5 separate regions of the Homo sapiens genome follow, and regions 2, 3, 4 and 5 are each reported to be linked to region 1. Evidence: microRNA targets listed by miRTarBase, many of them from high-throughput screens and not tested one by one. Region 1 holds a microRNA gene; each other region holds the end of a gene's coding sequence. Distances are from middle to middle.

Region 1 (5,105 bases):
CGCCTCCCCCACAGACTGCAGCCAACCTACCTGGCTCGTGTCTTCCAGGCACACTGGCAGGAGGGGGCACGGCTGTGGAGGGCCTTGTATGGGGCCTTTGGACGGTGCTATCTGGCACTTGGACTGCTGAAGCTGGTGGGGACCATGTTGGGATTCTCAGGGCCCCTGTTGCTCTCCCTACTGGTGGGCTTCCTGGAAGAGGGGCAGGAGCCACTAAGCCACGGCCTGCTCTATGCTCTGGGGCTAGCCGGTGGGGCTGTGCTGGGTGCTGTGCTGCAGAATCAGTATGGGTATGAGGTATATAAGGTAACACTTCAGGCACGGGGGGCTGTGCTGAACATCCTGTACTGCAAGGCTTTACAGCTGGGGCCCAGCCGCCCTCCTACTGGGGAGGCCCTGAACCTACTAGGCACTGACTCTGAACGGCTGCTTAACTTTGCTGGGAGCTTCCATGAAGCCTGGGGCCTGCCCCTGCAACTGGCCATCACCCTCTACCTGCTGTACCAGCAGGTAGGCGTGGCCTTCGTGGGTGGTCTCATCTTGGCACTGCTGCTGGTACCCGTCAACAAAGTGATTGCCACCCGCATCATGGCCAGCAACCAGGAAATGCTACAGCACAAGGATGCGCGGGTTAAGGTGAGCGGGTACTTGGGGTCCCTCAGCTATCTGGAGACCCCACCCAGCCCAGGTCCCCAGGTCTTCCCATGCACACTACCTGAGGGAGTGAGAGTGACCTCAAAGTTAAGAGCTGAGACTGGAGAAAGGTAGACCTGGGTTCAAATCCTGGCTCTACACTTACTGGTTCAATCACTTCAGACAAGTCACTTAACCTATTTGGGCTTCCCCTTCCTCATCTGTAAAGTGAGAATAGTAGTAGCTTACCTTGTAGAGTTGTAAGGATCTCATGAGATAATGCTTAGTGTAGTGCCAGTCACAAAGTAAGCTCTGAATACATGTGGCCACCCTGGGAGGTAGGAAGTCATCTGTCTGGCTCCAAACAGGTCTTTAGGGCCAGAGCTGGGACCCAAGTCTCCAACCTCCTTATCTAGGGCACAGACCACCCCATGGCTGCATGTAGAGACCTAGGAGAACCTCAGCTGCCTCTTTGGGTAGGCTGAGGGGAAGGGAATAGGTCACTTTCCTGCCTGGGTCAACTCCAGGTGTTTAGGGTTTGGCTGAATCTGCAGAGCTCTGGGTTCTGCAGTGATTGTGGGTACCTTCACAAAGGGGATGGCAGTCCTGGGGGTTCATACAGCATAGTTGTCGACCCTTAGTGGAACAGCTCAGAGTGCTCCTGGAGGGAAGGGAGGTTGATAGATGGTTATGGCATGAGGCATTTTCCCCTACCTGTGACAGCTACAGACGAGGAGTTTTGGCCCTTGCCCATCTTCCCTGGGCCCATTAGCCTGTTTGACCCTGGGCTGTAGTGTGGCCTCTTATGCCTGTGTACTTCTACAGGAATAGTTTCTGTGCCACTCAAGCCGGGGGCCGGAACTGGGGGGCCAGCCCCCGAAGCCCACATCTTTTGGTTTTGGGAGATAGCCCTTTGTCCCTCATCTAATGGGAGGAGAGCTTTTACTCCACTGTGGTGACCTGGCTCCACCTTCCACCACTCCTCCTAGGAAGGTGGGGAATTCCCACTCCAAGCTGTCCCCAGCTGGAGCAAATGGAGAAGTAAGAGACTGGGAGGGGAAGCAACCCAGGGCTGAAAAGGATTTGAAGGGCAGGATTTCCAGAAAGTACTGAGGTGAGGAAGAAAACCAAGACTAGGGCAGTGCAGAGTATCTGGGAGCTTAGAGTACTGAACATTCTGCCAGCAGCCTGGGGAAGGCTTGGCAGGGAAGACACATGAGCAGTGCCTCCACTTCACGCCTCTCCCTTGTCTCCTTTCCCTAGCTTGTGACAGAGCTGCTGAGTGGCATTCGGGTCATCAAGTTCTGCGGGTGGGAGCAGGCACTGGGAGCCCGAGTAGAGGCCTGCCGGGCTCGAGAGCTGGGGCGACTCCGGGTCATCAAATACCTGGATGCGGCCTGTGTATACCTGTGGGCTGCCCTACCGGTTGTCATCTCCATCGTTATCTTCATCACCTATGTCCTCATGGGGCACCAGCTCACTGCCACCAAGGTGAGGACCAGGAAGGAAGGGGACCAGCATCAAGGAGACTTCAGCGAAGTGAAGACAGAGGCTTGGGCCCTCAGTGCTGGCTGAGAAGGAGGGAGGGATCCCTGACTGCCTCATCTCTCAACCAAGGGAAAACTGAAGAAACCTTTTTGTGGGGGCCTTGGATATATAACCCTCCCCTCTGTGAAGGAGTTCCTTTCTTTCCTCTCCTCTACCTTTCACTCCAGCTTCTATTCAGTTCCAGGCTTGGGGTTAGGTCTCTTCATCCTCGTTCTAATGGCCTTAGGAAAAAAATGTATGATGCAATCCTGGGTCTAGCCAAGGCCAGGTGATGTTGCTACTTGGAAATTCTAAAAAAAAGACTCAAAATGAGCTAGGCCTGCCTAGTTAAAAAGATGCAACCTTGGCCAGGCGTGGTGGCTCACACCTGTAATTCCAGCACTTTGGGAGGCCAAGGCAGGCGGATCACCTGATGTCAGGAGTTCGAGACCAGCCTGACCAACATGGTGAAACCTTGTCTCTACTAAAAATATAAAAATTAACCAGGTGTGGTGATGCATGCCTGTGATCCCAGCTACTCAGGAGGCTAGGGTAGGAGAATCACTTGAACCCTGGAGGTGGAAGTTGCAGTGAGCCGAGATTATGCCACTGCACTCCAGCTTAGGTGACAGAGCAAGACTCGTCAAGAAAAAAAAAAATGCAACCTGAATCCCTTGAGGAACATTGGAATTTCTAGGATTCTTTAAGTGACCATCTCTGCCACATCTGATCCCAGGATTGGCCAGCCAGCCCTTCAGTTCTGTCATTGCCCAGTTCTTCCCTCCGTAGACCTGTCCACAGGGCTTCCCATAGAAACAGGCCCTTAGATAACTCCTGGGGCTTCACCCTGCACCCACCTCACTCAGGTGTTCACGGCCCTGGCACTGGTGCGAATGCTCATTCTTCCTCTCAACAACTTCCCTTGGGTGATCAATGGTCTCCTGGAGGCCAAAGTGTCCTTGGACCGGATCCAGCTTTTCCTCGACCTTCCAAACCACAACCCCCAGGCCTACTACAGCCCAGGTAATGGGAAGCTAGTGGGCAGAACCTGGCACAGGGTGAGGAGGGAAGTGGAGCCACTTGGGTGCTGCGCATAGATGTCACCAAGAGGGCTTAGAGAGAGCGGAATCCAAAACAGACTCATTTAGCTTTGGGCAGGTAGATATGGGGCTGGCAAGTGAATTACATGATTTACCCTCCCCAAACAGATTGTGGTAGATTAGGAGCCCAAATCAAGTGGCTTCTCTGTTCAGATCCCCCTGCAGAGCCATCTACAGTATTGGAGCTGCATGGAGCCTTGTTCTCCTGGGACCCAGTTGGAACCAGCCTGGAGACCTTCATCAGTCATCTCGAAGTGAAAAAGGTTTGTTGGACAGACACCCTGGGAGAGTCCTCAGACTAACGAGAGAGATGGGAACTCATGTCAGAGAAGCAGTGACCGAGCCAATCATAGCTGATGGCTCTGCAGCTCTAATTGCTGCAGGAGGGATAGGCATTTGGTGAGCAGGTTCTAATCATGAGGAGATGACACCTCACATCTGAATCTCAGAATAGTTGCACCTCTCTCTGGTCTTTAGGCAGCTTGTATCCATCCAGTCCAGACCAATGGGTGTGCTTGTCTCTCCATGTCCCTCAGAAGCTGCAGCATTCAGAACAGGCCCTGGGGTTTATGTAGCATCTCCCCCAGATTGGGGATCTGGGGGAGAGGCCCAGCAAGTGCTTCCAAGAAATATTTTGCAAATGGGGATCCTCTGTTTAGGCTGGTGAAAAGCAATCACACCCTGTGACTCATGCTACAGCATACAAAGAACTTAAAATGGGGCATTCCTGGCAATAAGCCAACTCCTGTTCACCTCCTGTTCTGAGTTTTCACTCTCTCCTGACCTTTGTCCAACCCTGTGCCCCACAGCTCAACCCGGCATTCTCTGGTGGTGGCTGAATTGCCTCCACCACATTTGGCTCACGTTTCTGGCTTGGGCTGTATGTTTTGTTTTTCCTCTTAGTTCAGGCAAGACAAGGCTAGATTTGTACAAAGGAATTTTGCTAATGTGTTAGTTGGGGCTTTTTTGGGTATAAGTTACAGAAACACACTAGAGCTAGCTTAAGCAAACAAGAATTTATAATAAGGATGTAGAGATACATTGCAGAATCCAAAGGCAGGAACGCAGCTGGATCTTAGAAACAGCCCAGAACCAGGCCTCAACTCGCAGAGCTCTCTGCTTCTGTGTGCCTCTCTCCCTGTATTTGCCTGGTTCTCTTCTCTCTGTGGACACACCCTCCACTGAGCAGAAGATGTGACTACAGAGAATGCTCGAGTTTACAAGTTACAGCCAACAAGGAGAAGCTGCCTCTGGGACCTGATCCCAAATTCCCATGGAAAGGTCTCAGAAGTGGTGCCCACTTGTAGCTGGGTCAACCCTGGCTGGCAGGGTTGGGGCATCACAGGCAGATAGAGCTTCTGAGAGCCCAGTCCCTTCTAGAGAAGGAACTAGGACTTTTTTTTTTTTATATTTTTTTGAGCAGGGAGATAGCTCCATGAACATATGACCAAAAAAAAAAAAAAAAAAAAAAAAGGTAAACAGAAAAATTTAAGCCACAGAAATAGGGATCTATGCAAAGCTCTGCTTTTTCCCCTGAGATATGGTAACTCTAGCCACAGGTCGACTTAGCCAACCCATCATCCAGGCCCTAAAGCCTGGAATTCTACCCTTCCCTCTCCCGTTCTGGAGTGCCTGTCTCAGAGTTTACCTTGGAAGTTCTTGGGTGGTTTCCTCCCATTCTCTCTGGCATGCTGCTCCCCTTCAGAGGCCCTTCACATAGACAGTGAAACTGATAGCCACTCTGAGTGGAGAAAAAAACACCCTACTTTTCTAGAGCCTGATTTGTTGATCAGCCTGTGAAGCGGAGAATTCTTTCCCTACACACTAAAGAAAGAAGAAAAGAGA
Region 2 (5,105 bases), not on the chromosome of region 1:
ACTAAGGCTGGTCTCAAACTCAAGCTCAAGCAATCCTTCCACCTTGACCTCCCAAGTGCTAGGATTACAAGGGTAAGCCACTGCACCTGGCCCAGGAACGGCCTCTTTGAGGAGACTGATAAAGGGGCAGCAAGCTGTACCAATTTCTATCACGAGCTTTCTAGGCAGAGGAAAGCAAACCTGCAAGGAGAGACTGCAGCGATGAAAACGTGGCAATAACCAGGGGCTTGAACACGCAAGCCATGGTATGAGCTCTGGGTTTTATTCTGAGTGTGAATCATTGCAGGATTATGAACAGAACAGCCTGGTGGAGAACAGGTTGTGTGTGTGCGGAGGTGGGGTGGAGAAAACCTTGGGAGATCTGAGTAGAAGCAGAAAGGTTAGGAGGTTGTGGCAGGGATTTGGTTCAAAGATGATCGTGGATTGGACTAGAGAGGTGAACATTAAGGAAACATTTTCAAAGAGCTTGTGGGTCTTGATGGATTAAATATCGAGTGTTAGAAAAGAAGGATGACTTGATTTGGGTTTTGGGCAACTTTAACAATGATGGTGTCAATTACTAAAAAACTAAAAGAGAATAATCTGAGGCACAAACCGTGAGTTCTTTTTGGAGTGCATGCCGTGTTAAGGAAAGCATCTAAGTGGACTGTTTTTGGGAACTCAAAGAGATCAGGGCTGGAGATAATCGGGATGTAAAGTAGCACATGAAGGGGTTTTTAGAGCCAAGAGCCTGGATGAGATCTTCTAGACAGGCTGCACTTTAGGGCACTATCAAAGGTCGTGATCAGGAAAAGGAGGGTACCGCAAATTAGAGCAGGACCTAAAGAATCCCAATTTTACGTCATAATTTTCACTAAAATGTTTCAGAGACTATTGAAACACACCGACTGATTAAAATCTCAGCAGTAATCTGTATTTTAAATTTCCTTACTCAAATGCAAATTATGCATTCTAAGACTTTCAAAACACAGTTCTGAAATAACTGCACAATATAGTCAAAACATATTTATTACTTTTCAGTGTCATTTTGTACACTCCCGTACAAATACAAGAATATAGCCATATTTACAGGTATTGAAAAGAAATCTGTATATTCAAACCCAACATCTAAATACAGTAGCTGGAAGTCCTGAACTACAATAGTTCCGGTGCGCAGAGTGAATTATTTCCCGCGTTGCCCTCTCCCCTTTCAAACAGTCCCTCAAAGATATGGTGGTTTTTGAACATAATAAACTGTTTTTGGAAATGGGTAACAATTCCTGGCAAAGTTTTAAGAACCTCCTTCCCAAGATTTTACAAGTGTGAAACAAAGATTTAGAAGAAAAATAAAACTACTAATTTGGACTGTTAAAAGAAGCATAATGTCTTGAAACAGGGCTGAAGCATGTTTTTAGTCTGGAATTGCAGTCATTTTAAAATCAGGTTAGACAAGTTAGAAAAATAAAAAGCGTAGGAAAGCTGGTTCTTCAGGGGAGTCTGTAACCTTCTTTCATCAAATATATTGTTACAATACCACGACATTTTAAAAGTTTGAATAGAGACTACTGATCTTTTAAAACGGGGGGGGGGGGGGGGGGGCAGGGGGAGGGAAAGGCCACTCAAGTTCCCTAGAGGCTATTCAGTACTTCTATTTTCAAAGTATCTAAACCAAGGTACATGTTCAAATCCATAACCAACTAGATAAGGAATACTCTAGTCCAGAACATTATGCTTATTTTAATAGATATTCCCTAGTTAAGGTTAGGAGCTGGATACCTTGTATTAAGGTGCAATATTTAAAATATTTCCACAAAATTTTAGATTTTCTGTGTTTAAAAATTCACTACTGGCCAGGAGCGGTGGCTCACGCCTGTAATCCCAGCACTTTGGGAGGCCAAGGCAGGCAGATCACCTGAAGTTGGCAGTTCAAGACCAGCCTGACCAACATGGAGAAACCCCATCTCTACTAAAAATACAAAATTAGCCAGGCGTGGTGGTGCATGCCTGTAATCCCAGCTACTCGGAACGCCGAGGCAGGAGAATCGCTTGAACCCAGGAGGCAGAGGTTGCGGTGAGCCGAGATCGTGCCATTGCACTCCAGCCTGGGCAACAAGAGTGAAACTCTGTCTCAAGAAAAAAAAAAATTCACTATTAAGAAATACCAAATTAGGCATCTTCTCCTAAATATATGTGACTAATTCATTTAGGGATGTAAACTTTTTTGAAAAACAAAACATAGGTACACAGACCAGTAGACTATAAGCAAATCAAATTCAAATTTACCTAAATCACAAATTGCCATCTGATCAGGAAACATTTGCCTATTACAACAAATTGCTCACTTCTTTCCAGGAAAGATACAGTAAGGTTTCTAGCTGAACACACAGCTCTTTGGGGTTTCATTTACATGCACTAGTTAAATTCAGCAGATGTTAACAATCTCACAGAGGTATAAACATGACAATAAATTAATGACATGTCTTTTCTTACATTTAAAAAGTATCCTTAAATTACAGGAAAATATCTTCAAGATTTTAATTCCTTTTAATTACACTGGAACATTTTTGTATTTTAGAAAACACCAACACTATCGCTTACAGTTAACTTTTTGAGCTTACTGAAAAGCCTGAACATTTAACTTCCATACTTTCAATATATGCTTAAAGCACAAGAGCAATTTCAAAATTTATGTTAGCATCCGAGAATGTAGTAACATTGACATTGATGTCTAACATAAAAAATAAGCCCTTGGTGCTGCCAGTTTTGGAAGCACTTATCTGCCCCAACAGAAAAAAAAAAAAAAAAAAAATCACCAAAAAACCCTAAACCAATTTAAAGAAAAAAAAGAAGAAGAAGAAGAAACACCTTTCTAAATCAGATGGCAAGATTTTGATGGTAAAGGTTTTTTTGTGGGGGAAGAAAAGATTTTTTTCATGCGGAAACCCTTGTGATTTGATACATTACTGGCAGTGTGAAGCTAAGGCTATGTGACTAATATTTCAGCAAAGGAAAAAAAAAGTCAAGGTAATTTTATAGTAGCAATAGTTTCTTTTTTTATTTTAATATACTTTAGGAAACAATATACAAAGCTGCGCTTTCCTGCTATTTCCAGATAACAGCAGGAAGCTCCAATTACACAAATTTAGCGTTTTGTGATGGCTAAGAACAGCAGTCAGCACCAGACTTGAACAGTTAGCTACAACACAAACATCCTTCCAAATGAAATGTCATAATAGCAAGACAGGTAAACCAGGGTTTAACAAATGACAACCACTTGGGAAGTGACTTAATCATTCTTGTTGAATTTCTTATTTCATTAAATATCTCATACACAATTTCCTGTTAATACGTTTTAAACAAAACCTCCCTTAAGGAATTATTTCAATTAAGTATAAATATTCAACAAGAACAGTTCTGATAAAGAATCCCCAGGTAGTTCAAATGCTAATGTGCACTGACCGAAGGAAAAGAAAAATAACAATTTTTGTTTGTTTTAACATGTTTATTACAACAGATACAATTCACATCTGACTAGCTCTGTTTCCTCTTTCCCCTCCCACAACCACGTTCATTGGGCCATTTCCTTATATTTGAGCAATCAATGTACTTTGAGCACACATGCCTGTCCAGCAGTACTTTTAAGTCCATTCTTAACAGGGTGCAAATGGATTTCAATAATTTATACAAACAAGTAGGTTATGCTCAATCACTGCAATTTTAAGCTACTGTACACAGGAATGAAAAGGTTATAGAAAAGTGCCATAGCAACAGTGCCTTAAGAAAGGAGATAAAGAGGAGCCTTAAAAAAATGGATAAAATCAGAATTTCAGAAGGAAATGGAAACACACGGGAAATGAAAAACATTTCTCTGCAAAACAAATGGAGAAGCACTGCTCTTGATCAGGTGCAAGTGTGGAAACAGTTGTTTCATATTTTGTACACTGCCCATATGGTTCAAAATCGTATCCTTAGACACAAATCGCCTGGCGCTTGCACTGAATTTTTGAAAATGCAAGATTTCTGAATGATAAATTAACCCCCCCAATTTTTTTTTTTTTTTTTTTAAAAAAGCTAATTTTGCAGACAGGTTTACATGTAAAAGGCTAGGTATTTAGCCACCTCAGCATTGATTAGTTTTGGATGTCTAAGCTCTGTTACACATGGCTTCCCATGGCTTCACTCTACAAAACATATTTACAACGTGAAGGATACATCTACAAGAAATCTACATTTCAAGGGTTTTACAAATCAATCTTGTATCTTTCCCCTGAATTGACTCTCACAGACCCCGTCCCCTTGTCATTTCCTTTGCCCAGCTTAACGGTCCAAAGTCTACTTAAATGCAGCTCAAAAATGTTAAGATTGGGCAACAGATTTACAGTTCCTGTTCTCAAAACCATGTGCAATTATTCACATCTTCACACCATGAAGGAATTCTGATTTTTTAGCTTTTCAAGTTCCTTAATTTGTTGTCTCAAAAATAGTATCCTGAAAAAAAAAAGCAGACATTAGAACCTGTGTACATATACAAATATTACAGAAAACCCGAGCTTTTATAATTAAAATTTTTTAAATTAAAACAAGTGATTTCTAATTAAGGCAAAGAAATTTAAAAAATTATTTAACTATAAATTGGTTTACAGTTAAGACAAAGTAAACATTTAATACATAATATCTATTAAAGTATAAGGATGATGAAAGGATGTTTTAGTTTTCAAACAACTTTTTATTTTATTTTATTTTTTGAGACAGAGTCTTGCTCTGTTGCCCAGGCTAGAGGGCAGGGGTGCAATCTTGACTCACTGCAATCTCCGCCTCCCGGGTTCAAGCAATTCTCCCTGCCTCAGCCTCCTGAGTAGCTGGGATTACAGGCACCTGTCCTTACGCCCGGCTAATTTTTATATTTTTAGTAGAGACAGGGTTTTGCCATGTTGGCCAGGCTGGTCTTGAACTCCTGACCTCAGGTGATCCGCCCACCTTGGCCTCCCAAAGTGCTGGGATTACAGGCGTTAGCCACCGCGCCCAGCCTTTTCTAACAATTTCTTAATAATTCCTTTGGCTCTAACAACTTAAAATGTATTACTTTATAAACCGTATCATCACAATAAAGAAAGCAGTAGCTATTA
Region 3 (5,105 bases), not on the chromosome of region 1:
ACTCTTATAATAGGAGTTATAATAGTAATAGGAACCTGCTTACTGTTCCTTTGTTTGCTACCTGTACTTCAAATGATAAAAAGCTTCATTGCTACCTTAGTTCACCAAAATGCTTCAGCACAAATGTGCTATATGAATCATGACCTGTCTTGCAAGAAGACATGGGTAGTGAGGATGGAAGTGAGAACTCCCACTAATGAGTGAGGTTCTCAATGTGGGGGAATAAGGGAGGAGACCACCCCTCATATTGTCTTATGACCAATTTCTGCCTCAAAGAAAAAGTAGGAGTTAAAGAAAAGAAAGAAGCAAAATCAGTAAGACAGCCCGGCACTGCATTCCAGGTCTGGTAGTTAAAGATTAACCCCTGATCTAACCAGTTATGTTATATCTATAGATTCCAGACATTGTATGGAAAAGCACTGTGAAAATCCCAGTCCTTTTCTGTTCCATTCTGATTACCAGTGCATGCAGCCCCCAGTCACATACTCTTACTGCTTGCTCAGTCGATCACGACCCTCTCACACAGACCCCCTTAGAGTTGTAAGCCCTTAAAAGGGACAGAAATTGCTCACTTGGGGAGCTCGGTTTTTGAGTCCGCCGATGCTCCCAGCTGAATAAAGCCCTTTGCTTCCACAACTTGGTGTCTGAGGGGTTCTTGTCTGCAGCTCATCCTGCTACAGAACTTCCTGCATTTTCATTAAAAACTTTATTATTTGGGAACAATACTATGCAGCCACTAAAATCATGCTTTCAAAGTATTTAAAAGCATATGCAAATATTGGTCTTCTTACACTAAACATCATGATGTGGTTTTCTTGGATCTTGTGTGGATACTGTAAAAGAAAAATTTTAGGAATAAGCCAGTGTTCATAGCATGTCAAATGCTCTCTTGAATGGAGTAATTACAGGCAGCCCAAATGTGCTCTCAGCCACTAGTGGTGGTAGAACAAATGCAAAGCTGGTACTCAAAGTGACTCAGGAGTATGGCAATTTTTCTGTACGTGCTTTTCTAACAGTGCCTAGGAATGATGGTTTTTGCCTAAAAACAGGAAAGTTGGGTCGTCTTTATTGGAGCTTTCTTGCCATAGTCAAATAGAAAATAATCAGTGATGAGTATCATCTAACAAATTGATGGCTGACCTTAATGGAACATACTCAAAAGCTATCTTTTAAGCATTTGCTACTTTAATTAGAACAATTCATTCAGTATCACTGTTACAATATTCCATGACTCTTATTTTCAATATACTCAAAGCAACTTGAAAGTTTTATAAATTCTTTACTACAGTATTACCCGCTTATTCTGACACATAAAAGCTCTGTAGTTACACACTGTTAACATGTTAATGGCACATCTTACTAGCAACTTGCTGCACTTCTGTTATCAATAGAGGTTATGTGAAATACTTGGATAAGGACAGCCTGATTCTGTAGAAAATATCTGTTTTCTATAGAACAAAATATCTCCCAGTGGTAATTCAGCAAATTAGGTTCAAGAATGTGGGTAAAGGTAGGTGTAATGTTGGATTCTGAAGATCTACCTGCAGAAACAGATCTACCTACAGAAAGGCACGTAGAATTACTGTTAGGAAACCTAAGCAGCCTTAGCACCATGGTCAAGGTTTTAAAAACCTGATCTGTAACTGTTATGGGTTCATTTCCTAATGCAGAGAAACTGGCTAGTACACACAGTGTAGATTTAATGTGGGAAATATGACAACTTGGAAATGCTACCCAAAGATAAAAATCTAAAGACTATCAAAATTTGCTGTTTTCTAAAATCATACATTAGAATTTTGTGAAGTCTTCTGAATGACACAAAACCAGATGAAGGGAATCAGACCAAAATTACCTGAGTAAGGCCATTTCAAGTGCCTAACAAAGATGGTCAATATTAACTTGAAAAACCAGTGTTTCCTAAGTGTTCCTGATCAGAATTACCTGAGGTATTCCTTACAAATAAATTCTGAGGCCCATTCTCTTAAAGATTCTGGCTTAGCGGGTGGTACGTCTGGATTGAAGGCTAAGAATCTGTACCTTAAGCAATTCTAATTATCAGGCAAGTTTCGAAAATAGGGCTAAGCAGGAGTGTGTGTGTGTGTGTGTGCATGTGTCTGTCTGTGTGGAGGGGGGAGCGGGGAACAGGAACAAAGGAACAATACCAGCACTGTCTGGTCCCCTCATTCAAATACTGCCTGAAAAACTACCTGAGAATGAGAAACATTCAACTGAAGTTGAGGAATTATCTACAGAACACTGTTTATTTCAAGTCCAAAACACAAATTACTCATTTTTCTTAACAGACCGCATAATTTTTTCTGCATGAATATTTAGGGTTTCTCTATTCACAAGTACAGTTTATTACTAGACTTTAGGCTTGAATGATTCATATATATAGATATCAGTTTACTACAGAGGACATGTACTTTTAACATTTTTTGTTTAGAAAATATTTTACATAAAAACACAAAGCATTTACCAACACTCCACAACCAGTCTTCAGCAAAGATTTGGCTGAAGATAACTTTCTACAAAACACTCCAAGACTGAATAGAATGTAGTATTTTACATACTTTAGCTTATTGTTGCAGTTAAAAGCTCCCCCTTGTTTGATGGCTTCTGCATGTATCTACAAAGCAGAAGTCTTAACTGGTGACCTGTTAAATAACATTGCCTTTTTAAGTGAACTTGTCCCCAGCCCGGAACCTAAGTAGTCATAATGAAATAAAGTAATTGATATATGAGGGGCTTTTAGTAAGGGCTTTTTCAACCTAATAAAATAATAATTTAGTATCTATCAGTGCAATATTCTTTTACTGTTTTGTGTTCAATAACCACCTGGAGTGCTAATTGTCTAGTATAATCAGTTGGCATCAAAATAGAAAGTAAAAAGATGTACATTTAATATACCAATTCTTACCTGAATAATCTTGGATTTCTGGAGAATGTTCCACAAAGTGGAATTTCTTCCTAAAGTTATGCTGAATGTGGTACAATGTGTACAACTTGGTTAACCAGTGCCTGCTTTTCATTTCCAAGATTTTTCCTTATCTTGAATCAAATGCACAATCTTACAACTGTATCATAATGCACTGGCTTACAGTTCTGTATATAAAGTCCAACTCAAGCTTATTTTGGTTTATTGTACATGCTTTATTAAAATGGTACTTGTATTTACAGTATCTGCAGAAAGAGTCCCTTCCAAGGCCTCACACATTCAGACACATCCATACTGACACCCACTCCACAGCCCCATGCACCCACACCAGTGAGATGTGGAGGGTCAGACTCCTAAAATTAGGCAGCTGTTGGGGATAAGAGTTGATTTGTTTTTCAATTTTTTTGAAAACAGAAAAGCATGGGGGAATGCATTTGGCCATTACAATGCTAATTGAGTTTGTGTATATTACATATATGGCAGTTAACACTGTAATATTCCTTTTACATTCTATATACACAGAATGATATCAAGGTTTTATGGTCAACAGAATATTCCAACTTCAGTCTTAATGCTGCTTGTAGTGATTTCTGAATTCATTATAGGGGCTTTCCCTAAAAATAATTCAAGTCTATGTTAAGTGAAATAAGGCACAATTAATATTGATTTGATTTAGGGAAAGGGAAGGAAAGAGAAGGGATAAAAACTGGTTTCAAATGATCTTTCTGTTGGGGAACTAGCTCTGACTTAAACCCACCTGAAATTCCTTCTCCTAATTTCCAAAGATTTCTTTATAAAGATATTTTTCTTTTCCCTGACAAAGCCAAAAAGAAAAGTTTGGGAATTCACATTTTAATGTTTCAGTAGCCTGAACAACTCAAATTGATGTGTACCCCCACCTCCCCTGATCAGGTCGCCTCCCTCACCCATGTTAAAATAAAAACACAGTATGTGACACAGGAGTCCCTTGATGTTTCTTGAGGAGATCTGTACACTTGAGTAGCAAATACATATCTGGTTGTCTTCAATATATTTTAAAAAGAAAGAAAGAGAAAGAAGAAAGGAAAGAAGGAAAAAAGGAAGGAAAGAAGTAATATTGTGACTTTCTTGCTCTTTAAAAAAATCCCTGTCTCCTTCTTTTCAGGATGATGAAGCCCCACTAGACATTACAAACAACTGCAACAAATGAGTTTGGCAGCATAAATAATGTCTAGTTATTCAAATCTTCATAGTGAGATTAATTTATCTTGTACACAATTTGTTGAATGTTTTTCGCAGCAGGTGAATCAAACCCAAAGACTCCGGACAGTCTGTGAAAGGGAGTAAGAATTGCAGTTCTGAAGGCCCCTGACTTTGGTTGTTTACAAAGTTCAATCCTGTTTATTGTGATCCTTGGTATCTTCTTCATCTGTATATTCTGATGGTTCTTCTCCTGGTTTTAGGAGTCTGCCTACATAATCATATTTTTCTGAAAGATACATCAAAAGAAAATCAGTGGTGATCAAATTTGTTTCACTATTCCATTATACAGAGAAAAGGCATTTGTCTGTTTTAGAATCATATAAAATATGATTATTAGAATATTATCTAAATATTCTAAAATTGCTTCACCATGGCTGGTCTTTATACACATGTAAAGCCTGAACAAAAGAAAACAGGATTAGGGAACTTATAAGGCTTGGGAATTCTTTGCAAGAGGGTGTTCTGTACCAGTGATTCTTAGTTGGATACTGCATCAGAATCACTTGGAGATCTTTTTTAAAAATGAGTAAGTCCAGGACCCATCTCAGTACCCAGCTAAACCAGAACAGCTGTTCCAAGGGACCCAGGGGTCAGATAAACAGCTGGGACAGCATCACACAAGTGGTAAAAACTGATGTTATGAGGGCATAAGAAAGGGGAAAGATATTTTTTATCTACATTTCGAGTGTTAAGATCTGTAAAATCATTTTGGAATAAATTATAGTATTGAAATCAGTAATCAACTCAGTTTTAAATATAAGCCTGTATTTTTAAAAAACTAAACCTTAATGAAGAAGCTGACTGTAAGTATCACAATTTTTGAGGCTTAGAATTTGTAACAAGTCATTTTTTTAAATATTGATTTTCAAAATAATTATCACATGTAACAATCATATTTTTATTTAGCTATTTTTTGCAATTTCTT
Region 4 (5,105 bases), 11 Mb from region 1:
AAGGCAGGGAAGCCCAGTGGTCAGAGCTGGGGTTGGCTTCACTGAGGTGTCTGGGTGGTGGTGGGTAGAAAGGTCAGTGTTGTCCAGAACTGTCCACAAGCTCCGGCTGTTCTCTGTAACCTCAGTCCCTGTGTCTTCAGCTCTGAGCCTCCCTCCTTGAATGATCCTCCAAGTTCCTGTCCTGACCTCAGGAGGAAAAGGGATGAAAGATAGAGAAAAGGAAAGGAAAGATAGGGAGGAGAGAAGGCAGACACATAAGAGTAAGGGCAATTGAGGGCAAGGACCTGAAGGATGAAGACAGGGGAACAAGAGATGCCAGGGGCTGCGGTCCAAGAAAGCAGTCCCAGAGAGGGGAAAGATAGAAAACACTTGTGCCGGGCTTCCGTTTACAAAACAGTTTCCTACACAGTGCGGGCATTAATCCCACTTTGTGGCTGAGGAAACGGAGGCTCATAGACATTAAGGGTCTTGTTCAAGGGGCTAAGTCAGTAGTGGTGAAGGTGGGTCTCACCCAGGTGTTCTCATTCCTAAGCCTGTATTCGCTCTTCTCCCCAAACAACTCCAGGAAAGGAAAGGATTGAAGACTTAGGGAACAAATGAAGTGGCTTCTTTGAAGCACTTGTACAAAGAAGGGTGGAGAATCCAGATTTTTGAAACTTTTCTGCATCCAGTTATTGTGTAGATTCACTTAGAAGAAATGGCATCAGATGGGGAAGGGGGTGGTCAACATTCCATTATTGAGAACTGGGGGTCGGGTGAGGATGGGGAACACAGAATGTAAAGACAGAGAGCAGGATGAAAGATGGGAGAGAACTAAGAGGCTACAGCTGAAAAGGGGGCAAGGGAGCCTCAGAAGGAAGGGTTTGGACCCTTAAAACTTCCTTTGCCTAGAGACATGGGTGTGGGGAGAAGGGAGGAGGAAGGACATTTCTATCTCGTGACAAAAGAAAGTCACACAATTGTTTTGTTCTCTGCTCTGAGGCGGGTGGGCGCCTGTATTTACCAGAGGGACCCAGGTCGCTGTGGCAACCACACATCTGGGCCCCGGAATCCAGATGTGCTGTATCCAGAAGCCATAGCAGAACGATGAGGCAAACATCAGGCTCCCCAGTGCTGGCCCCCACAGCTGGGAAGAGGATGGAGAACTGGTGTGGGAAGTAAAGGGAGTGGGGGAAGGAAGGAGGAGGAGAGGACCAAAGTGGGGGAAAAGAGAGGACATAATGGAAAGGGGCAAGAAATGTGGACGAGGGAGCAGAATGGGAAATAGAAAGGGGGCGGCATGAGAAAGGGAGGAGACAAGCACAGGGTCAGCAGCAGCAGCAGATGAGAAGACCAAGAAAAACAAAGGAAAAAGACAGTGAATTTAAAAATATATATATATTTTTAAATAAGGCCAGCACGGTGGCTCATGCCTGTAATCCTAGCACTTTGGGAGGCCAACATGGGAGGACTGCTTGAGGCCAGGAGTTCAAGACCAGCCTGGGTAACATAGCGAGACCCCACTTCTATTTTTAAATTAAAAAAAAAATTTAAGACAGTGAAGCAGTGGATGGGGTGGGGAAGATACAAAAGAAGAAAAAAACAGTGATGAATAATGGTTCAAAAAGAGGTTGTGATAACTGCTAATGAGGTAGAGAGCAAAGAAAGGCAGGAAAGAAGTCTAGAAAGAGGAAGGGAGGGATGATGAGGTCAGGGATGAGAGAGAACAAAAGGTGGGATCCTGAGGAAGAAATGAAGGAGATGGTGGCACAAGGAAAGCAGAACAGAAAGACAAAGTGGGCATAGGGCAGGAGGGGCCAATGAGGTGCAGGAGTGACAGCGACCTGGCATGCTGAGTGGCCTTGGGGGTGTGGCCAGAGGAATGGAGATCCACATGGGCCTAGAAGGCAGCAGCCCAGAGCCTGCCCGGCTTTCACCCTGCATCAGGTACCCACTCACCGTCCTTCTCAATCCTTCCTGCCACCACAATCCCTCAGCCAAGAGAGGTCTGATGTCTCATCCACACCAAAGTGCCAGCTGTCCCTTGCCAATCAGCAGAGGAGCAGGATGTCCCACCCCAGGGTGACCCCTGAGATGCCAGCACTTCAAGTACTTTCCCGAACTGGGGGCAGGAAGGAGGAAGACAATGGGACAACGAAACAGTAATGAACCCAAATGGGATAAAAGTGGAAGAGAGAAGGACAACAGAGATGGGGACAGAAAGGGGCAAGGGATGAGGAAAAGGTGTATCTATTATGGACCAGGCACTGAGGACGTCGTCTTTCATCCTGTCATCAACCCTGATTAGGAGGTAGGAACATCCCATCTTACAGATAAGCAAACTAAGGCTCAGAATGTTTAAGGACATCTACTAACGAAAGGCAGGGTAGGGAATCCAGCTTAGGTGATGTGCTTCCAAAATCCTTGTTCTCACTGCACCCCCTCCAGAGATACGGTGGATAAGGCTCAAGGACTCTGGGATAGAAAGCATAGCTGAGAAGCTGGGCTGCCCTCTGGAGGGAGGAAAGGTCTAGTTCCTGGGATCCCTGGTTCCAGGTTGCCATAGTTACTTGGTCTGTTTTCACCCCAAACACAGTAATGGGTGAGGGCAGTGGGAGGGGTGTGGGGGTTGCCTGGCTGGACACATGAGGTTCTTCCTCCCTCCTTCAGGCCTGGGCTTATGGCCCAGGCAGCCCCTGTCCAGTCATCTGGGCATTGAGCCCAGGCCCAGCTCACACCCTCCAGCTGACCCAGGACACTCCTGCAGGGTCAGGCCTGAGGCACTGCTGAACAGGAGCAGCTGGAGGGGGATTCTTCCAGGTTGGCCTCAGACTCAATCCCTCACTTTGTCCTGCTCCCCTTCCTCCTAATTAGAATGCACAGCCTAGCCAGGCATGGTGGCTCACACCTGTAATCCCAGCACTTTGGGAGGCCGAAGTGGGCAGCCTGGCCAATATGGTGAAACCCTATCTCTATTAAAAATACAAAAATTAGCCGGGTGTGGTGGCGTGCACCTGTAGTCCCAGCTACTTGAGAGGCTGAGGCAGAAGAATCACTTGAACCCAAGAGGCGGAGGTTGCAGTGAGCCAAGATCGCGCCACTGCACTCCAGCCTGGGTGAGAGAGCAAGACTCCGTCTCAAAAAAAAAAAAAAAATTAAAAACATAAGAATGTACAGCTTTTTCTGCCTGCCCCACTCTTGTCTTTGTCTTTCATCTGGACTCTCAAGTCTCAGTCCCCTCCAGTTTAGGGCTTAGAGGATATCCTGCCACATCCCCCTTCCCTTCCAAATATCACCCCTTCTTCACCGAGACCCCCACTTCCTGGGCTCTGAGCCTCTGGCCCCAGCTCTTGTTGTTTGTTTGAGCTGCTCATCCTGGACAGCAAGAAGAGGGGGAGAACCTGCTCGAGAGCAGGAGACCCAGAGGCTGCTCACCCTGAAGGGCGTGGGGCCCCATCTTTCCTGTTGACTCACATTCCAGGGATGCGTATCCTCTAGTCTGTCACGCCATGAGACATCGTTGCTAGACACAGATATACCCCAGAGTTGCAGGGGTGGGGGCAAGGGGATGACATGCGGTCTGTGATCCCGCACCCACCCCACCTCAGAGCCAGCTATGTCTTCAGTGCTTGATTCTTTGATGCTGGCTCTGGAAAAGCCACTTTCCCCCAAACTCCCCATCACGAGCCAGGAAGGCAGCCACCATTCCTTCAACTCCCTCCAAGTTGTTTATTTAATAATAATAAAAAAGAAATGCACACACATAAACCTGAACTCCCCCCCACCCCACCCTCCCTTACTCCCAGTAACTAGCTCCAAAATGAAAAAACTTCCCTTGTCCCACCTGGGGACTAAATTCCCACCTCCACTGCCATAACACTAGAGAAACAAAATAAAAAATATGCAGCAGCTCACCACCCACCCCACAACTGAACCTCACACAATCCCCTCAAACAAAGAAGCCAGGACTGGGGGTTCACAGGAATGAGAGGAGCCCTATATTCTGAAAAGGGATGAGAAGAGAGGTGAACACCCCCACCTCAAATAAGTGCTTAACCCCCACACCTGCTCTTTCCTTTACCAATTGCCCCAAGCCTGGGGATCAGGGAAATTTGAAACAGTCCCACCTGGCCACCTGGTACCCCCTCCCCCCGTTCTAAGTCAGTGTGAATGGCAGAGGTCAGGGATGATTGAGGTAGAGGGGCTGGTGGGAGGCCTGGTGGGCCTGGCTGGCTGCAGAGACTGGCAAGGGGCCACCTGTGGCATTGCCTGGGGTTGGGGATGGCTGTTTTCGGAGCGAGGGGGGCACTGTGGAGGTCTTGATGTGAATCACCCTGGTGTCCATGACCTCACACTCGATCTGCATCATCTCCTCATAGTCCCCCGGGGCCCCACGGCCTGACAGGGTCTCTGTGAGAAGGGGAGAGTTAAGGAAGAGGAGATGGGGAGGCAAACAGGGATTGCAGGGAGGAGGGGAGGAGGTCAGAAAAGTAGAGGTGAGCAGAGAGAAAAAGAAAGGGCAATAGTGAGGAGGCAGATCCATAGCGGGAGTTAAACAGGATGGCAGGGACAGAGTTTGGTGCAGGGGCAAGGAGAGGGTAGGAAAAGAAAAGGGCATTGAGTGTGGGGTCACACAGGAGAGGACATCAAGAGAAAAAAGTAAGTGAGAGTCTAGCAGGTTCCCGGCCCCCCGCCTCTGCCCAGTCATCTACCCAAGCACCTTCACCAGGGAAGGACCCTCACCCTTGTCTCCCTCCCAAGTCTCCTGCATGGTGCTCTTCCCTCCACCTACTTCCTGCTGCTTCTCACCTGTGGGTCCAGCAGCTCTCTGGATGCCCTGCTCCTCTCCCCCTTCCCCCTCAGCTCCCAGGCTGGATCTCCCTGTTGGAACTGCCCCCATACCCAGCAGGGAAAGAGTTACCATTGGGGGCCATGGCAGGCATCACCAGGGACATCTTGGGCCGGGAGGTCTTGTTGTGGCTGATGGCTGGGAGCAGCAGGTGGTCCTGGGGAACAGATGGGCCAGGCCAGAAGGGTGGAGGCAAAGATGCCAACAAGCTCCCCAGCCCTACTCTACATCCCCCCACTGAAGACAGACTGCTGGGAACCTGGGGTGACAGAGATGG
Region 5 (5,105 bases), not on the chromosome of region 1:
AGCTCCATCATAATCTTATAGGACCCCCATCGTATATGACTGACAGTGAATTAGGTATGTTTACATCAGTCACCACAAACATGAGTAGTGTATTGCCCTACATTAGGAGAGCTATGACGTCACTAAGCCATAGGAATTTTTCCGCGCTTATGGGACCACCATCATATATGTGGTTCATTGTTCACTGAAACGTTGTTAGGTAGCCCATAGACTGTACTTGCATTATACTTAATGTTTCAGTCTTAATCTGAAATGTTCCAGCAAGCATTTCCTTTAAGCATCATGTCAGTGCTTTAAACATTTCAGAGTTTGGAGGTTTCAGATTTTCGGATTAGGTTAGGGATGCGCAGCCTGTACTCGTCAAGATCAGTATCCATTAAAATACAAAAGCAAGTGTTATTGTAATCATGAGCTGTTTTGTGTATACTTTAATTTGTTTTATTCTTTTCTCCTAGGTTCCTGGTACAGTTCAGACAGGACAAAGTATGTGTGAAGTTTATTCAGGGAAACCAGAAAAATGGGAGTGTCCCAACATGTAAACGAAAAAACAACCGTCTCCTTGAAGTTGCTGTCCCTTAACTGGCGCCTCCTCTCTACTTTCATGGACTTGTTCCTTTGTAATAGTGCAATTTGGTTTTGTTTTATTTGGGGTTCATTGTATGTTTGGGAATCACCAAAGGCTTTTAGAGTTCTTTGGCAAAATAAAAATATTTGACTAATCAATTTTTATTATTGGAATAGTTTTAACCTTTCAAATACATGTTCTGTCCTGGAGCAGGATTGTAGAAACTAACAGTGTCTATTTTCATGTCTGATGTGTTCTTCCTTTAGTCATCATGTTAGGTCTGTGTACCCTAAATCAGCATATTACTCATAAATCATTAATTAATATAAGCATAGGAAATGGTCTTAAAAGATACTGCATTCATTCATCAGATATTTATTCCATGCCTACTCTATGCTAGGCACTGTGCTAGATGGTATGAAAACTTATTAGGAACCTTTTTGTTTTTGAGACCATTGCATTCTGGCTGGTTTGTGCTGGTTTAACGACATCTAAGAAGGTTTAGAAATGGTGAGACCAAAACAATAACTGTTAATGATGGACAGCATTATTAGGAACCCTGTAGTATGATATTTAACAATATAGGCTTCAAGAAGGGCTGGTCCTAAGAGGGGGCAGAAATGAATGACCAGGTTAAATCCCTCTACATGTGGTTTCTGTTTGAAAAAAAGAAAACTGACATTTGAACAGGACTTTTAATTTGTTTAAAACTCTGGTAATTACTTGTAACAGTAGAAAATAGAAGTCATTCTTATTTTAGAAAAAGTGACAGAAGCAGTCCAGTAAGATTATATGTTTCTGTTTCTGGTAAATACCATATATGATCCTCGAAATGATAATATCTCCAGAATATTGTTTTCACCCAAATTTGAGTAGATATTTTAAACACCTAACAAAGTAAAGGGCTAAAAGCCATTCAGATAGCAGTAAAACATTCTGTATGATGTGCAATAAAACATCCAAGATCTTTTTTGAAAGTTTTATTTATAATATACATTTTTGTATGAGAAAGGTGATTGGTACAGGGTGCCTATTTTAGTCATGGATCAAAATTTGTGTAACTTGCAGGGCTTTCTTTCTTTTTCTTCAAATTTACAAGGGTTCATTTTGGAAACTACATTTTAAACTTTGGAATCAAATTGTTTCTTATTTGGGAGGATAATGTATATACATTGGTATTATGTTAAATAATAAAATTGTTCTAATTTGGTGCCATTTCCTGAATCACAACTGTATTTTTGTATCTCAAGCTATTTTCATATGTTGTGTGTCAATGTATCATCTCTCAGAAAGGTTTTACAATCCAAACATTATATGTTCTCTGTGTAACTGAATTTCACTTATCTTTTATAAACCAGAAACATTAATTGAAAATATTTTCTGGGGATTTTCTCTTGACTTGTATTTTTAAAAATTGCTCACATAAAGAAGTTCTCAGAAGTCTTTGTGTTTATTGGTGCAGGTAGAGGATGTAATTACTTAGATTCTTCTTGCCTTGTGCCTAAAGTGGTAGATTAATAGTTCCTGATACTGGTGAGTAGAAATTTGGGAATGAGAGGGTGTGGTGTTTTAAATAACATGCAGTATGTTCACATTGTTCAGCATGTAAGTAAGTGTTAAAATATATACATTACAAATTCTCCATCCTATCAACCAGCTATCTGCTTAGTTCCCACCCTCCCCGAAACATTAACCATTGTTGTTAGTTGCTTTTGTATTACTTTGTCCATATGTTTGCAAAAGGAAATCAAAATAGATTCTTACGTTCTTCTGCTTTAGTAGACAAAAGCTAGTATATTATATTGTAGCCATTGTTCTTTATCTTGCCTTTTTCACCTAGCAGAATATCATGAAGAGCTGCTCATTCTTCCGTTGTATGGATGTGCTGTGGTGGATTTACCTGGTCTCCTACTCATTATCATTGGGTTGCTTCCTAAATGGAACTTGAGGATGGAAGACTAGGATGGAAAGGAGAAATATCCCATAGGTCTACTTGTTAGATTTTTCCAAATACCTTATTTGCAGATTGTTCAATCAGTCTTGTCACTGAAGTATTCAATAATTTTTGGTCATGGAACCCATTCTTCATGGGTTGTGACTTGACGTGTTGGGAAAGATTTGCTGAACTGCAGCCAGAAAGCTTCCTTATGTACCAAGGTGAAAGCCCTTCACATTCCCCATTGGGAAGAGCAGTAATAACCTGACCACACTACAAAGGAGAGTGCCACTATGGCCCAGGTGACCCACTATAGAGCAGTGTTTCCCAAAATGTCACTGCGCATCAATCTGGTTCAAAACCACAAGGAAAGCTTGTTTTTTGTGTGTGTGTTTTTTTTAATTTTTGGTTTTGTTTTGTTTTGTTTGGAGGCAGAGTCTTGCTGCAACACCCAGGCTGGAGTGCAGTGGCACATTCTCAGCTCACTGCTACCTCCGTTTCCTGGGTTCAAGCGATTTTCCTACCTCAGCCTCCTGAGTAGCTGGGACCACAGGCATGCACCACTACGCCCAGCTAATTTGTTTATTTTTAGTAGAGACGAGGTTTGACCATATTGGCCAGGCTGGTCTCAAACTCCTGACCTCAAGTCATCTGCCTGCCTCAGCCTCCCAAAGTGCTGGGATTACAGGCGTGAGCCACCGCACCCAGCTAGAAAGCTCGTTTTTAAAAGATTACAAAAAAACAAAAACCCATGCCAGTTCCTGGGCCATACCCTATACTAACCAAATCAGAATCTCTGGAATAGAGTTTGAAAACAGACATTTTAAAGAAAATCTCCAGATGCATTCCAGCCTGGGCGACAGAGTGAGACCCTGTCTCAAAAAAGAAAAATCTCCAGATGACTCACACACATTGAAGTTTGAGAACCACCAAGGGAAATTACTAGAGCTTCTCTATAGCTACACACAGCCGTCTATGCCTTAAAAAGTCCTCCTTTGGTGACCCTCACCCAAATATGAGAACCATTAGTCTAAAGCTTCCCTCTGGCTGCACATGGCCCAGTGAGCCATACCTGCCAAATCTGCCAACCCCAGTGCCGAACTAGAGGTTACCAATAACTGTGGCATCACTCTATTACAGTGAGCAAGAAACTGATACTCCTTTATCTCGGTTTCTGTCGCTGTCCTGCAAAGGAAAGTTAAAGCATTCATGACACTCCAGAATTCCTGTGTATTCTGGCCTGGCCTCACAGCCCTAACTTGTTCCCACCCATAACTTAGAAGGTTGCTCGGCCCCTGCAGTGACTTCTAGGAGTGAGTGGAGTGACTAGACCTAGTCACCTAGGACCTAGACTCCTAGATCTAGTCCAGTAGTGACTAGGAGTACCCAGACCCTGGAGTGACTAACTGATGGGCTTGAAAAAAGTAAACGGGTAATGGGTACCAGATAGAACATGGTAGTTGCCAAGGTATGCAGTGTAGTTGATGCAGCTACTCTTGACTTTGATTTCCATCTGCCACAGGACAAGAAGGGAGTATGGGAATAGTTATTCTCTAATGGCTTGATTACAGTTTTGTACTGCACACTCTTGAATAATAACTTGGACCCAGAATTCAAATGGAAGGCCTTCAGCTCAAATTTGAAAAGCTTTGCTCATACCCAGGGGTGATGGGGGTATGTCTGTAATGGCAAAGAAGCAGGCCAAGAGTTCTGAGAATCATAGGGATATCGTCAATATTACGGATTTGGCAGAAATCTAAGAGAATGAACTGTTTATTATGCCATGTCAATTAATATGCTGAGAACTCTCAAGTTCATGTAATTGAGTATAATTGTGATAATTAGAGCATGGTTCAAAATGCTTTTAGGCCAAATATAAAAGGCAAAACTTCTTATCTGTTACTTTTCATATATAATAGGTAAGGTATTTCTTAGGCTCATTGAAATCTTGAAATAGCAAGTACCTTTGAAATGGTGTAAGTTGCTGGGGAAGGATTTAGTAAATTCATTAATGTGTCTGTTCTCACAATGAGTTTTAACCAGAATGTATCATATTAAGAGCCTTTGTTTTTAAGCTGGACATTGTTTTTCCATGAATATTGTGGTACTCAAATTCACTAAAACAATTAGATGCATAGGGGTAGAATGGAAGAGAAAGAAGGGCAGTAGTTTTGCTTTTCTTTCCTCCTGTTGAGAAAAACAGCTGTAAGTTTTCATCATACATTCGAAGATTTTCTGTTGTGTTATTATTGGAGGAGCACTTTCTTTGAGTCTTACTTTAATAATTCTGTCGTGTGCTCTTTGATTCTTAGGTTTTTGTTAGCTAAACCCTAGGAAGCCGTAACCTTGATGAGGTGGCACATGCTTTCTGGTCTCATCAGCTTTTATTTCATTTGCCACACAGGAGAAAATTAATTGTTTTGAGTTGGTTTCCTCCAGATCATGGAATGTTTGCCTCATTTTCTTTGGTTTGAAGATCATTTTCAAAATCTGGAGTTAATCACAGTACAGCAAAAGCCACAATCTCTTTCTCATTAACTTTTTTTCTGGCATGGTTGCTAGATCACCTCTGGTCAGTTCCATGAAATTCGACAAAAATCTAAC

The links. The annotated mature microRNA hsa-miR-6780b-3p reads UCCCUUGUCUCCUUUCCCUAG and lies in region 1 at 1,876-1,896, shown strand. An mRNA with a match to its seed (bases 2 to 7 or 8) in the 3' UTR can be bound and repressed. Matches are read on the target gene's strand: a 7mer-m8 pairs with bases 2 to 8, a 7mer-A1 pairs with bases 2 to 7 and ends in A, and an 8mer does both.
Region 2: the mRNA of WAC is a reported target of hsa-miR-6780b-3p. Seed matches in the 3' UTR shown: 7mer-m8 at 4,273-4,279 and 7mer-m8 at 2,922-2,928.
Region 3: miRTarBase lists PGRMC2 as a target of hsa-miR-6780b-3p. Seed matches in the 3' UTR shown: 7mer-A1 at 3,902-3,908 and 7mer-m8 at 2,603-2,609.
Region 4: the mRNA of ATF6B is a reported target of hsa-miR-6780b-3p. Seed matches in the 3' UTR shown: 8mer at 3,811-3,818.
Region 5: miRTarBase lists MYO1B as a target of hsa-miR-6780b-3p. Seed matches in the 3' UTR shown: 7mer-m8 at 1,660-1,666.

What each region holds. Positions count from the first base shown.
Region 1 is chr6:43,432,725-43,437,829 of GRCh38, forward strand. MIR6780B (microRNA 6780b) reads left to right here and starts at 1,818; the gene lies at 1,818-1,896. ABCC10 (ATP binding cassette subfamily C member 10) reads left to right here. Exons shown (of 22, transcript NM_001198934.2): 3 at 1-636; 4 at 1,897-2,124; 5 at 3,027-3,183; 6 at 3,414-3,523.
Region 2 is chr10:28,618,899-28,624,003 of GRCh38, reverse strand. WAC (WW domain containing adaptor with coiled-coil) reads right to left here. Exons shown (of 14, transcript NM_016628.5): 14 at 892-4,467. The coding sequence ends at 4,398. Among named protein-coding and RNA genes, the nearest start is that of BAMBI, 56 kb to the left of the region's middle.
Region 3 is chr4:128,267,008-128,272,112 of GRCh38, forward strand. It overlaps PGRMC2 (progesterone receptor membrane component 2), which reads right to left. Exons shown (of 3, transcript NM_006320.6): 3 at 2,235-4,406. The coding sequence ends at 4,309. Among named protein-coding and RNA genes, the nearest start is that of PGRMC2, 18 kb to the right of the region's middle.
Region 4 is chr6:32,111,580-32,116,684 of GRCh38, forward strand. ATF6B (activating transcription factor 6 beta) reads right to left here. Exons shown (of 18, transcript NM_004381.5): 17 at 4,901-4,985; 18 at 3,685-4,389. The coding sequence ends at 4,160. Among named protein-coding and RNA genes, the nearest start is that of TNXB, 4.8 kb to the left of the region's middle.
Region 5 is chr2:191,423,382-191,428,486 of GRCh38, forward strand. MYO1B (myosin IB) reads left to right here. Exons shown (of 31, transcript NM_001130158.3): 31 at 456-2,005. The coding sequence ends at 579. Among named protein-coding and RNA genes, the nearest start is that of MYO1B-AS1, 180 kb to the left of the region's middle.